3 linked regions of the Homo sapiens genome follow. The protein of the gene in region 2 purifies or fractionates together with the protein of the main gene of each other region. This does not show direct contact. Each region holds a gene or a part of one and is shown on either strand. Other genes may lie near its edges.

The links.
Region 1: the proteins of METTL13 (region 2) and PTPN2 fractionate together in Homo sapiens (co-fractionation; one large-scale study listed by BioGRID). This does not show direct contact.
Region 3: the proteins of METTL13 (region 2) and PFKP fractionate together in Homo sapiens (co-fractionation; one large-scale study listed by BioGRID). This does not show direct contact.

The regions. Positions count from the first base shown.
Region 1 is NC_000018.10:12,828,700-12,832,351, forward strand, and holds part of PTPN2 (tyrosine-protein phosphatase non-receptor type 2), read right to left. Parts: intron 2,343-3,652; coding exon 2,244-2,342; intron 1-2,243. UniProt on the Homo sapiens protein: Non-receptor type tyrosine-specific phosphatase that dephosphorylates receptor protein tyrosine kinases including INSR, EGFR, CSF1R, PDGFR.
Region 2 is NC_000001.11:171,794,877-171,798,307, reverse strand, and holds the end of METTL13 (eEF1A lysine and N-terminal methyltransferase), read right to left. Parts: intron 1,827-3,431; coding exon 1,552-1,826; 3' UTR 592-1,551; downstream 1-591. UniProt on the Homo sapiens protein: Dual methyltransferase that catalyzes methylation of elongation factor 1-alpha (EEF1A1 and EEF1A2) at two different positions, and is therefore involved in the regulation of mRNA translation.
Region 3 is NC_000010.11:3,108,915-3,112,566, reverse strand, and holds part of PFKP (ATP-dependent 6-phosphofructokinase, platelet type), read right to left. Parts: intron 3,213-3,652; coding exon 3,087-3,212; intron 346-3,086; coding exon 281-345; intron 1-280. UniProt on the Homo sapiens protein: Catalyzes the phosphorylation of D-fructose 6-phosphate to fructose 1,6-bisphosphate by ATP, the first committing step of glycolysis.

The sequences.
Region 1 (3,652 bases), on a different chromosome or scaffold from region 2:
TGTTCCTTAGCTTTTGTCCACTGAAAAGCCCTAAAAACAATGACCAGTCCAGTTGCAATATATATCCTTATTTTTGCTGTGATCTTGAAATACTGCTGCCCATTAAAAGAAACCAAAACTCCTTAGAGAAATGGCTGGTTCCAGGTCTGGGCAGCAAGAGTTTGAGATGAGCCTGAGATGCAGTCATTACAGACAGCAAAAAAAATTTTTTTTTTTTGAGACAGGGTCTCGCTCTGTCCCCAGGCTGGAGTGCAGTGGCACGACCATAGCTAACTGTAGCCTTGACTTCCTGGCCTCAAGTGATCCTCCTGCCTCAGTACCCCAGGTAGCTGGGACTACAGGCATGCGCCACCACACCCAGCTAATTTTTGTATTTTTTGTAGAGACAGAGTTTCACCATGTTGCCCAGGCTGGTCTCAAACTCCTGGGCTCAAGCGATCCACCCAACTCAGCTCCCCAAAGTGCTGAGATTACAGGTGTGAGCCACTGCACCCAGCCAAGGAAACTATTAAAGGTTTGTTAAAAAGGACTCAGAGCTGGGTGAGGTGGCTCACGCCTGTAATCCCAGCACTTTGGGAGGCCGAGGTGGGCGTATCACTTGAGGTCAGGAACTTGAGACCAGCCTGGCCAACATGGTAAAACCATCTCTACAAAAACTAGCTGGGCATGGTGGTGGGTGCTTGTAATCCCAGTTGCTCGGGAGGCTGAGACGGGAGAATCTCTTGAACCCGGGAAGTGGAGGCTGCAGTGAGCTGAAATCATGCCACTGCACTCCAGCCTGGGCAACAGGCGAGACTCTGTCTCCAAAAAAAAAAAAAAAAAAAGAGGACTCAGGACCCAACCTAAAGACATTGCTGCTAGCCAATGACAGGGTAATTTGATCAAAAATAAGGAAAATAACTGCAAAGGAGTAAAATTAATCCAGTATGTCCAAACCCATAATAATTCAACCTCTCCTGCCACTCTCCACCAGAAAAACTCCTAATTGGTCATCTGTTGAGAACAGATGACCTCAATAGGGAATCAACTTTTTTTTGGAAAACTGCTTTTAAGAGAAGTAATGACAGAATTGGATTATCATCATTTGTAACCCATAATGAATTAAGAAGCTGAACACTGACCAATAATGGCTATTAATGAAATAAAAAGAACAATAATCAGACATTATGGGTCTCTTGATGAATAACACATTACCCACCACCTCTGAAGTAATCTTCCCCAAAATAATTAAACCTGACTCTTGTTAACCATCTAGGTTCAACCACCATAAACATGATTTCTAAATTCTGGTGGCAGTGTTATCTTATTAATACAGTAATTATACTCCAAAATGAGAGAAATAAAATTTGCAAATCATGTAGTCTACAATGGTGCTCAAACTGACAATGTCATAATCCTTGATTTTTTTTTTTTTCTTTTTTGAGATGGAGTCTCACTCTACCGCCCAGGCTGCAGTGCAGTGGGTTTTGAGATGGAGTCTCATTCTATCATCCAGGTTGAGGTGCAGTGGCACAATCTCGGCTCACTGCAACCTCCACCTCCTAGGTTCAAGCGGTTCTCCTGCCTCAGCCTCCCAAGTAGCTAGCATTACACCTGGCTAATTTTGTATTTTTAGTAGAGACGGGGTTTCACCATGTTGGCCAGGCTGGTCTCAAACTCCTGACCTCAAGTGATCTGCCTGCCTCGGCCTCCCAAAGTGCTGGGATTACAGGTTTGAGGCACCGTGCCTGGCCTAATCCTTAATTTTTAAATGATATTGAAGATCAGGAAAAACCCCTGTAAATGACTATGCTGATACTGCTGGAAATTCTGGCATGTCATTGCCACATCTAATTAGAAGTGGATTAGGAAATTTTCATCATCATTAAAAACCAGCAATTATGAAATGTAGAATAAAGTAAGAAATCTGAAGTAGAACAGTACAAGATCTTAAAGCTGGAAGAGGACTTATTGACAATAGGTCAATAAGGATTCCTAGGGATTCCAAAGATCTATATGTCACTGCTAGTCCATATTTATTCCATTGTATTTCTATCTTGGAGATGAAAGGTCTGCAATTGTTATAAAAATACTTAAGAAAGGAAAAGGATACATGAGTTTTTCCGGACAGAAACACTTTGACCGCTAGCCTTTAGCAATTAAAGGCCAAAACTAAGGAATGAATATTGGCCCCAAAATGAAAATCTTTATATGCTAATGATCACATACAGTATACTAAGTTGTAAATATTAAATATTACTCACCGATTCTTTCTCCACAATGCGGTTCAGCATGACAACTGCTTTGGTCTTCTGCTGCCAAACCATAAGCCAGAAATGGCAGCATGTGTTAGGAAGTGGACCCTGTGAAGAGAGAGGAGAGAGAGCAGATGAGGGAAGCAGACAGAAAGAGCAAGGCTCCAGGAAGGCCTTGTTAAGTCTGCTCCTGGGATGTTACAAGACAGACAGCGGACGGGCTTATAAGAAGTAAACCAAGACTTCCAATCTACCTGATTTCAAAAACAGGTCTGTGTTAGTTAGGATTTTTGGTTGTAAATGATCAAAACTGACTTTTATTTTCTCAGGCAAAAAAGGAATTGTGTAAGATATCAAGTGGCTTTCAGAGTTGAGGACTAGAGAGACAAACTTGGGTAGGAACCAAGGGTTAAGACACAAGCAAGGTCCTGCCCCAAAGAAAGTCAACCTGGGATGCTGCTCTTGATACCGTCACTACTATCTCCTTGCTTTTGCTGGCACTGCCATATGAAGGTGGCTATAGTATTCATGTACAATCTATAGGCAAATCAGAGACAAAATCACGAGTAGGAGTATCTGACTGATCATGTTCTAGCTGCAAAGAAGGTAGACCAAGGAAATTTCTGTCCTCTTCATCTTCTACAGCCAAGAGGATGTGCCTCCCACACATCATAGAAAATCCATGAGAAAAAAGTCTGTACCATCACTGGCCAGCCAACCAACTCAAGTCAACTACAAAAAGATTTCTAGAAAAAGTAGGAATCATTAAAGTACCTGAACCACAATGAAACTGTTAATCTACAAATGCACAGTATGTACGGCCTCAATGGAAGAGTATTGGGCAGAGTTAAAAAGGGGCAACAGTCCATGTTACAACAATGCCATGGGGATAAAAGCAAAATATTTCATGTATTTCCAATTGCTTTCACATTTTAATGATAGCATAGGGCAAAAGGAAGATCTAATAAGAGATGAAAAGCCTATGTACAAATTTTAACGAGTTTTAAATGAGAAGGTTAAAATGAGATGTAGTTTTGCTACACCTAAAATAACTATGAACATGCATTCAACTCACATGGAATGTAGCAGAGTGGTATGAGTTAGGGGCAGAGTCAGGAGTGGGGGCTAGGGCTGCCCAGAGCTTCAGACCCACATACAACAAGGGGGTTAAAGTGGTTCTAGACTAAAAGCATTTTTTATTTTTTGAGATGGTGTCTCTGTCACCCGGGCTAGAGTGCAGTGTCACGATCTCAGCTCACTGCAACCTCCACTTCCCAGGTTCAAGAGATTCTCCTGCCTAAGCCTCCCACGGAGCTGGAATTATAGGCACCCGCCACCACACCTGGCTAAATTTTGGATTTTTAGTAGAGACAGGGTTTCACCATGTTGGCCAGGTTGGTCTCGAACTCCTGACCTCA
Region 2 (3,431 bases):
GAGAGTTGGGAGGATCATCTGAGCCCAAAAGGTCAAGGCTGCGGTGAGCCGTGATGGTGCCAATGCACTCCAGCCTGGGTGACAGAGACCTTGTCTCAAAAACAAGGAAGAAAAAAGAAAGGACTTGCCAAGTAAGGTCCTCTGGGGTACACAGACCTGACATGAGGGATAATCTTCCCGTTACGGGGTTCCAGGGGAAGATCCCCTCCTAAAGAAAGAGAACCAAGTATTTCTAATGGGTAAGATCTAAAAACACTTCTCTGCACTCCCTCCTCTCCTTAACAGACTGACACTACTTTCTAAGGATGACAACCTAACTGAAATACAGACAGTCTCTGACTTACAATTTTTCAAGTTTACAATGGGTTATCAGGGTATTAAATGCATTTTCTACTTATGATGGATTTATCAGGATATAACCCCATCGTAGGCTGAAGAGCATCTGTATGCTTCAACTGAAAGGTCAGGGTCCATTTTTAAAGGGCCTGTGGAAAGAAGAGCCAGGTGGTGAATGGTGACAATGCCTATTTTCCATGGCACTGCTCATTAAGTCAACCTCGGTATAATTAGGAAAGACAAAATTCAAGCCAGTCTTGGAATCATTGGTTTAATGGTTCTGAATAAATGGTTAAGATTGATGTTTCCAGCCAAGTGAGATTTGGGTTTAGATATAGTTTGGGCTTAAGTATCCTTTATCTCAGATTAAATGAGACAGTGCATGTAAACCACTTAGAAGAATGCCTGGAACACATTAACTTTCATTACTAATGTTTTTGGTCATTCTTAAACATTTTCACTTCTGCCACCACCCTTTATGCAGTCTGGCACATAGCTGTCACTCAGCAAATGTGAGCAAACAAACACTAGAGACTTTAGTCTGCCAGGTCTCTAACATGCAAAGCCATGGGGCCAGGTCCATACACTCCCTCCACTGAGAAAAAGACAAATGGCTTAGGCTACAAGGTTTGGGTCACCAAGGAAAGCTGTCAAATAATGAAGTGGGTAAGCAGATTCCTAAAAATTGGAACCATTTCAGCAGCAGTTTCATCCACAGGGAGACAGAGTAAATGCTCTCTCAAATCTGTCTCACATCTATAGAAACCTTACTCTATTTATGGTCTTTTGGCATCTTGCTCTGCTATCTCACTTGAGATCACTCCTATAGAACTAATAGAGGAATAAATCAAAAGCAAACCAGTATAAGTAGAGACGCAATAAAATTTGGATGTCTTGAGTTCTGAGGGGCTTGCACACACTTGTTAAGGCATGCAGTGTGTGCTAGGGGCTTCAGCAGGGAACTCCACTCAAGGACGTGGTGTAGGAAGCAAAGACAAACCAACCCAAGTGGTACTGAAGAGGACAAGATGGGAAGGACATTTTTATTTTCCCTAATCTTCAGGCAACCTCACCAAGCTGGAGGTCACATGTAGCTGAGTGTGAAACCAAGAAAAATACGAAGCTTCAAAAGTACTGTGCGTTGTATTTCTTCATTCTCTGGCAGGCTGGGAGTCCAAGGTCAGTCTAGGCAGGAGGGCTGCTTGGCCTAAGCAGTCACACAATTTTCACCGTCTTGAGCATATCTGACAAGACATACGTGTCATCCCAACCCCTCCCAGGCTTCCTCAGGGTCCGCTCCAAAGCCTGGGCTGTTTCTAGGAGCTCTGGTGTGGCAAGTTTTTGCTCAGGGTGCAGCTGACAGAACAGGATCTCATTCACTTCACCCTCAATTCGCCGGACATATAGGAGGGGGAACACTGCCTTGAGCCCAGCCAGCACTGAGTCTTTTAGCCCCAAGTCTCGGCACACAAGGTTGAGAATAAAAACACCTATAGGGTAGGAAGAAAAGTCAGAATGACCTCACATCAGGAGACATATGAAAGACAAGGATCGGCTTTGAGGAAAATACCAATTCCTGTCCCAGGGAGACTGGTGGACTAAAACACACGGTGGTGATGAGTTTGCAGAGAATACACAGCATAGAAAGGCAGATGGAGAAAAGCATGGGGAGCATGTGAGCCATAAACAAACTCCAGCCTTATTTCTTGCTCTTCTGTGCTGCTCACATGTTATTTTACCATTCTCCAAGCCTCAGTTTCCCAAATAGCTTCTCAAAGAATAGCTTTGAGAAAGAAGTGATTCCCAGCTGGGCACGGTGGCTCATGTCTATGATCCCATCACTTTGGGAGGCTGAGGCAGGCGGATCACTCGAAGTCAGGAGTTTGAGACCAGCCTGGCCAAAATGGTGAAACCCCGGCTCTACTAAAAATATAAAAATTAGCTGGGCATGGTGGTGGACGCCTGTAATCCCAGCTGCTAGGGAGGCTGAGGCAGGAGCTGCTAGTGGGGCTGAGGCAGGAGAATCTCTTGAACCCAGGAGGCAGAGGTTGCAGTGAGCCAAAATCCAGCCTGGGTGACGGAATGAGACTTTGTCTCAATCAATCAATAGAAAGTGATTCCCTACGAAAGTAAAATTTACCAACTCCACAGGGATATTACATTCTTGGCATACACACCATAGAGTATTAACCAGTGACAGGGCCGAGGTTATCTTGACTTCTGACAATTAAGATTCCAAATCAAGCCAGTTACCACAGTGCCTTACACCAAATCAAAAATACCTAGAGGGTTGTTAACATAGGGATTAAAGGCTCCAGTTTTGAGGTGACAAGGCACTGACTTTGAGCCCCAACTGTTACCTTGCGTCACCTTGGCAAATCTTCAACCTCAGTTTCCTCATCCAAAAAGTGGACTGCTATGAAGATTAAATAACACACTGCCTAGTAGAGCACGTGTAGGAAGCATCATGTAGTAGCTAGCATCACCATGCTGGTGGGAGTGTGAACTGCTACAACCACTTTGTAAAACTGTGTGGTAGCATCTACAAAAGCCAAAAACATACCCATAACCTATGATCCAGCAATTACAACCCTGTGTATATACCCAAGAGATCTGAAAACATAATTCATCAAAAGGCATATACTAGAATGTTAATGGCAGCACCACTTATAATAGACCCACACAGGAAACAAACCAAATACGAACAGTAGAATGGATAAGCGAATTGTGTTAAGTTACATGATATAACACAGCAATAAAAATAAGCCATGTAAACACAACACTGTGAATGAGTCTCACAAACATCATGTTGAGTGAAAGAAAATGGACACTTAAAGAGTACATTCAGCCAAGTTCAGTGGCTCATGCCTGTAATCCCAGCACTTTGGGAGGCCAAGGTAGGAGGATCGCTTGAGGCTAGGAGTTTGAGACCAGCCTGGGCAACATGTTGAGATCCTATCTCTACAAAAAATAAAAATAAAAAAATTAGCCAGGCATGGTGGCATCCACCTGTAGTCCCAGCTACTCAGGTGACTGAGGTGGGAGGATTCCTTGAGACCAGGAGTTTGAGGCTACAGTGAGCCATGATCAGGCCA
Region 3 (3,652 bases), on a different chromosome or scaffold from region 2:
TTTGTTGTTAAAGGGCCACAAGTCACCTTGTGCCTTAATCTCATTAGCTCCTAAACAACCATCACCTTACCAAAAAGGACCAATGGCAAATTTAGAAAATGATTTCTCTCTAACCAGTCACCAGGGCCTGCTACTGCAAGAGCGGTGCTGTGAGTACTGCCTGACTTTCTGATTTTTCACAGTGACATGGAATAAGCACAACCCCTAAGCACGTTTGCAGTGGCTGGGCCTGAGGGGTGTGTGTTCCTGACAGGGCAGAGCTTTCTCCAAAGCACCTCACCTCCCTCGGAGTCGAACCGCATCTTGAAATCTCCTCTCGTCCATCGCCTTCTGCACATCCTGAGTCTTTTAAAACAATGATGAAAAGAAGAAAGAATGTGTCAGGACCTGGTGCATCATGGATGGGGTAGGTAGAGACTGGCTCGGTCCTTCCCACCAGCCCCCTCCAGTCTGACCCGGGCAGCCAGCAGCCCCAGGGTTAATGGTCTAGACGACCGGCCGCCAAGTGTGTCCTAATGCTGGTTGGCAGCCAGCCCCACACGGCCCGGCTGTGAGGTCAGAGCCCTGGGACTGCTTAGCTCAGGAGGCTTCTGAGGAAAAAGAGAAGGTGTCACCTGCTGTTTGTGGACACAACACTGTGAAGATTTAACTCCAAGAGAACAAAGCCAGAGGAAATGAAATCTCTCAGGCATGGTTCTAAGGAATTCTCAATTTGATTATGGTGGGGAAAAACAAAACAGAACACACCAGCTCACTGGGGGATGTGGGATGGGAGCGAGGTCACAGCGGGCGGGGGAGCAGAGGGGCCCGGATGGAGGCCCTGGGACACGGGGCTGGGACTGATGCACGCCAGGCAGCCCTGGGCAACGTCAGGATCTTGGTCAAGTTCTTTCTCGCTCTGAACTTCAATTTCCTCATCTGTAAGATGAGAAAAATACTCCTACTTCCAGCTATCTCTAAGGTTATTCAAGCATGTCAGACCCTCAGGAAGACGCCTGACAAACAGCAGGTGCACAGTAGTGGTCCCTCAGCTTTAAAAACAAAGCCACACAAGGGTGGTTTCAAGGTCAGGGCAAGTGACACCTACCACGGTCGTCTCTAGACAAGCAGAGACATGAGACACAGGCTCAAAATACACGTACCGCATGTCGTTCAGTGCTCTGAGCCTTTTAAGCCTACTGCCTCTCACATGCACACAGGCACACACTAACGTGCAGACACACACTACCTCACACTCCAACATACACACATATGCACATAAGCATACCTGCACACACAAACATGCAGACACACGCTACCTCACACTCATGCCAACATGCACACATCTGCATAGAAACATACCTGCACACACACACAAACATGCAGGCACATACTACCTCTCACAAACATACACACACATCCATATAAACACATGCACACACAGACATGCACACACTATCTCAAACATGCTCACACATGCATATAAGCATACATGCACACACATGCAGATGCATTACCTCACACACATATATACACATGCATATAAACATACATGCACACACTAACATGCAGAAACATACTACCTCACACTCAAATGTACACATGCATATACACACATGCACACACACTAACATGCACACACACTACCTCACAAAAACATGCACACACGTACAAACATGCATGCACACAAACATGCACACACATACATGCAGACATACTACCACAAACATGCATACTCATGCATATAAACATACACATACATGCAGACCCAAACTACCTCACAAACATGCACACACATGCATAAATATATGCATAAACCTGCATGTATATGCATATACAGAGATACACATGCACACACATATACATACATACACACAGAGACACAAGCCTGCGCACACACTCACACACATACACACAAATACTATTTTCTCCCTTGGGCTTTTGGAAATTATGTTTACAAGGTGACTTTCAACAAGTCCCTGACTTGATTGCTTCACGACTTCTTTGTGTGTGTTAAGAGGCAACAAAACAGGAGTCACGAATCATGAATGAACTCTGAAAAATAAAACAACAGCTGGGCGTGGTGGCTCATGCCTGTAATCCCAGCACTTTGGGAGGCCGAGGTGGATGGATCACAAGGTCAGGAGATCCAGACCATCCTGGCTAACACGGTGAAACCCCACCTCTACTAAAAATACAAAAAAAAAAAAAAAAAAAAAAAATTAGCCAGGCGTGGTGGTGGGCACCTGTAGTCCCAGCTACTCGGAAGGCTGAGGCAGGAGAATGGCGTGAACCCAGGAGGCGGAGCTTGCAGTGAGCCAAGATCACGCCACTGCACTCTAGCCTGGGCAACAGTGAGACTCCGTCTCTAAATAAATAAATTAATTAATTAAATAACTTCAAATGCAGCTAACTCCACAGCCACCTCCACTACTGAACCAATGCCTGAAAAGCTGGAACTGCTTTTCCCTTTGTTCATTTGCAGGCAGACAGTTCCCTGGCCCAAGAAGGGTGGGTGTATCTTCGGGTGACCAGAGCTTTCCCTGTGTCCCATCACAGACCTGAATGTCCTTGGGGATAGGAGGACAGGAAATGGCTGAAACTGGAGAAGTTTGGGAAGGTCCCACCTTCCCCTACAAAATACCACCCTGTAGATCTCTCTCACGCCCGCCTCCCTGCCTCCCTGCCCCCTCTGCCCCATGGGTCTCTCTCACGCCCGCCTCCCTGCAGTCTGTCCACGGATCTCTCTCTCTCGGCTGCCTCCCTGCACTCTGTCCTTCTGCAGCACCTGGTGCACTGGGGCCACCTGGATCCTCGACTGTTGAGGATCCCGATGCTCTAGACCCCCACTCAGGGGAGGTTACGACTATGTGCCACACAGATGGATGGTAACTTAGAAAACCAAAGAGCGAAGACGGCGCAGGCTCTGCAGGTGTGGGAGAGAACATAAGCCTTCTCCCTCCCCACGGGCAGCTCACCTCCTTCTCAGAAAGGCCGTGTAATGCATCGTGCACCGACGAGACACCCAAGGTGCCCAGGCTGGCCTGACAAGCAGCTTCTGTCCCAGCCGTCTCCGCCCTGCCCTTGGCCATGGGCTGCCCACTCACCATCTGCACGCACTCCATCAGCGGCAGGCGCACGGCGTGGTTCCCGTTCAGTGACACGACGCAAGCTGGGGTGTCCGGGGTGGCCTCTAGCAAGGCGATGACTGCCTCCACTCCCATGCGGCTGGCCTGGAAACCAGGTCCATGTGGGTCAGGGGCAGCCTCCCGTCCTGCCCTGTCCCTGTCACCTCCTATCTTTCCATGACGTCCAATGACCTCAGTCAGGTGCTCACAGCCCCTCCCGCTTCCAGCCCAACTCTTTAGAGCAAAGCGATTTCCACTCCTTTAGAACTGGCAAGACGGGAACAGAGAGGAGGTCAGGGCACATGGAGAGCAGGAGTGTTAAGAACTGAGGGTTTGTACTTGGGATTCCTGCTGCCCTGAGTCAGTTTCCAGAAACTCACTAGAAACACAGCCTTTCTGCCCTGGGATTGTGCCCTCTGGGGTCCACGTCGTGCCAACACCAAGCACTGCCTTCCCACATTAGGGAGCTCTCCCCGCATCTGAATGGCTGCAGGCCTAGAGACTGGTCTACACCAAAGGTCTCAAGGATCGTTAAGATGAGGGCC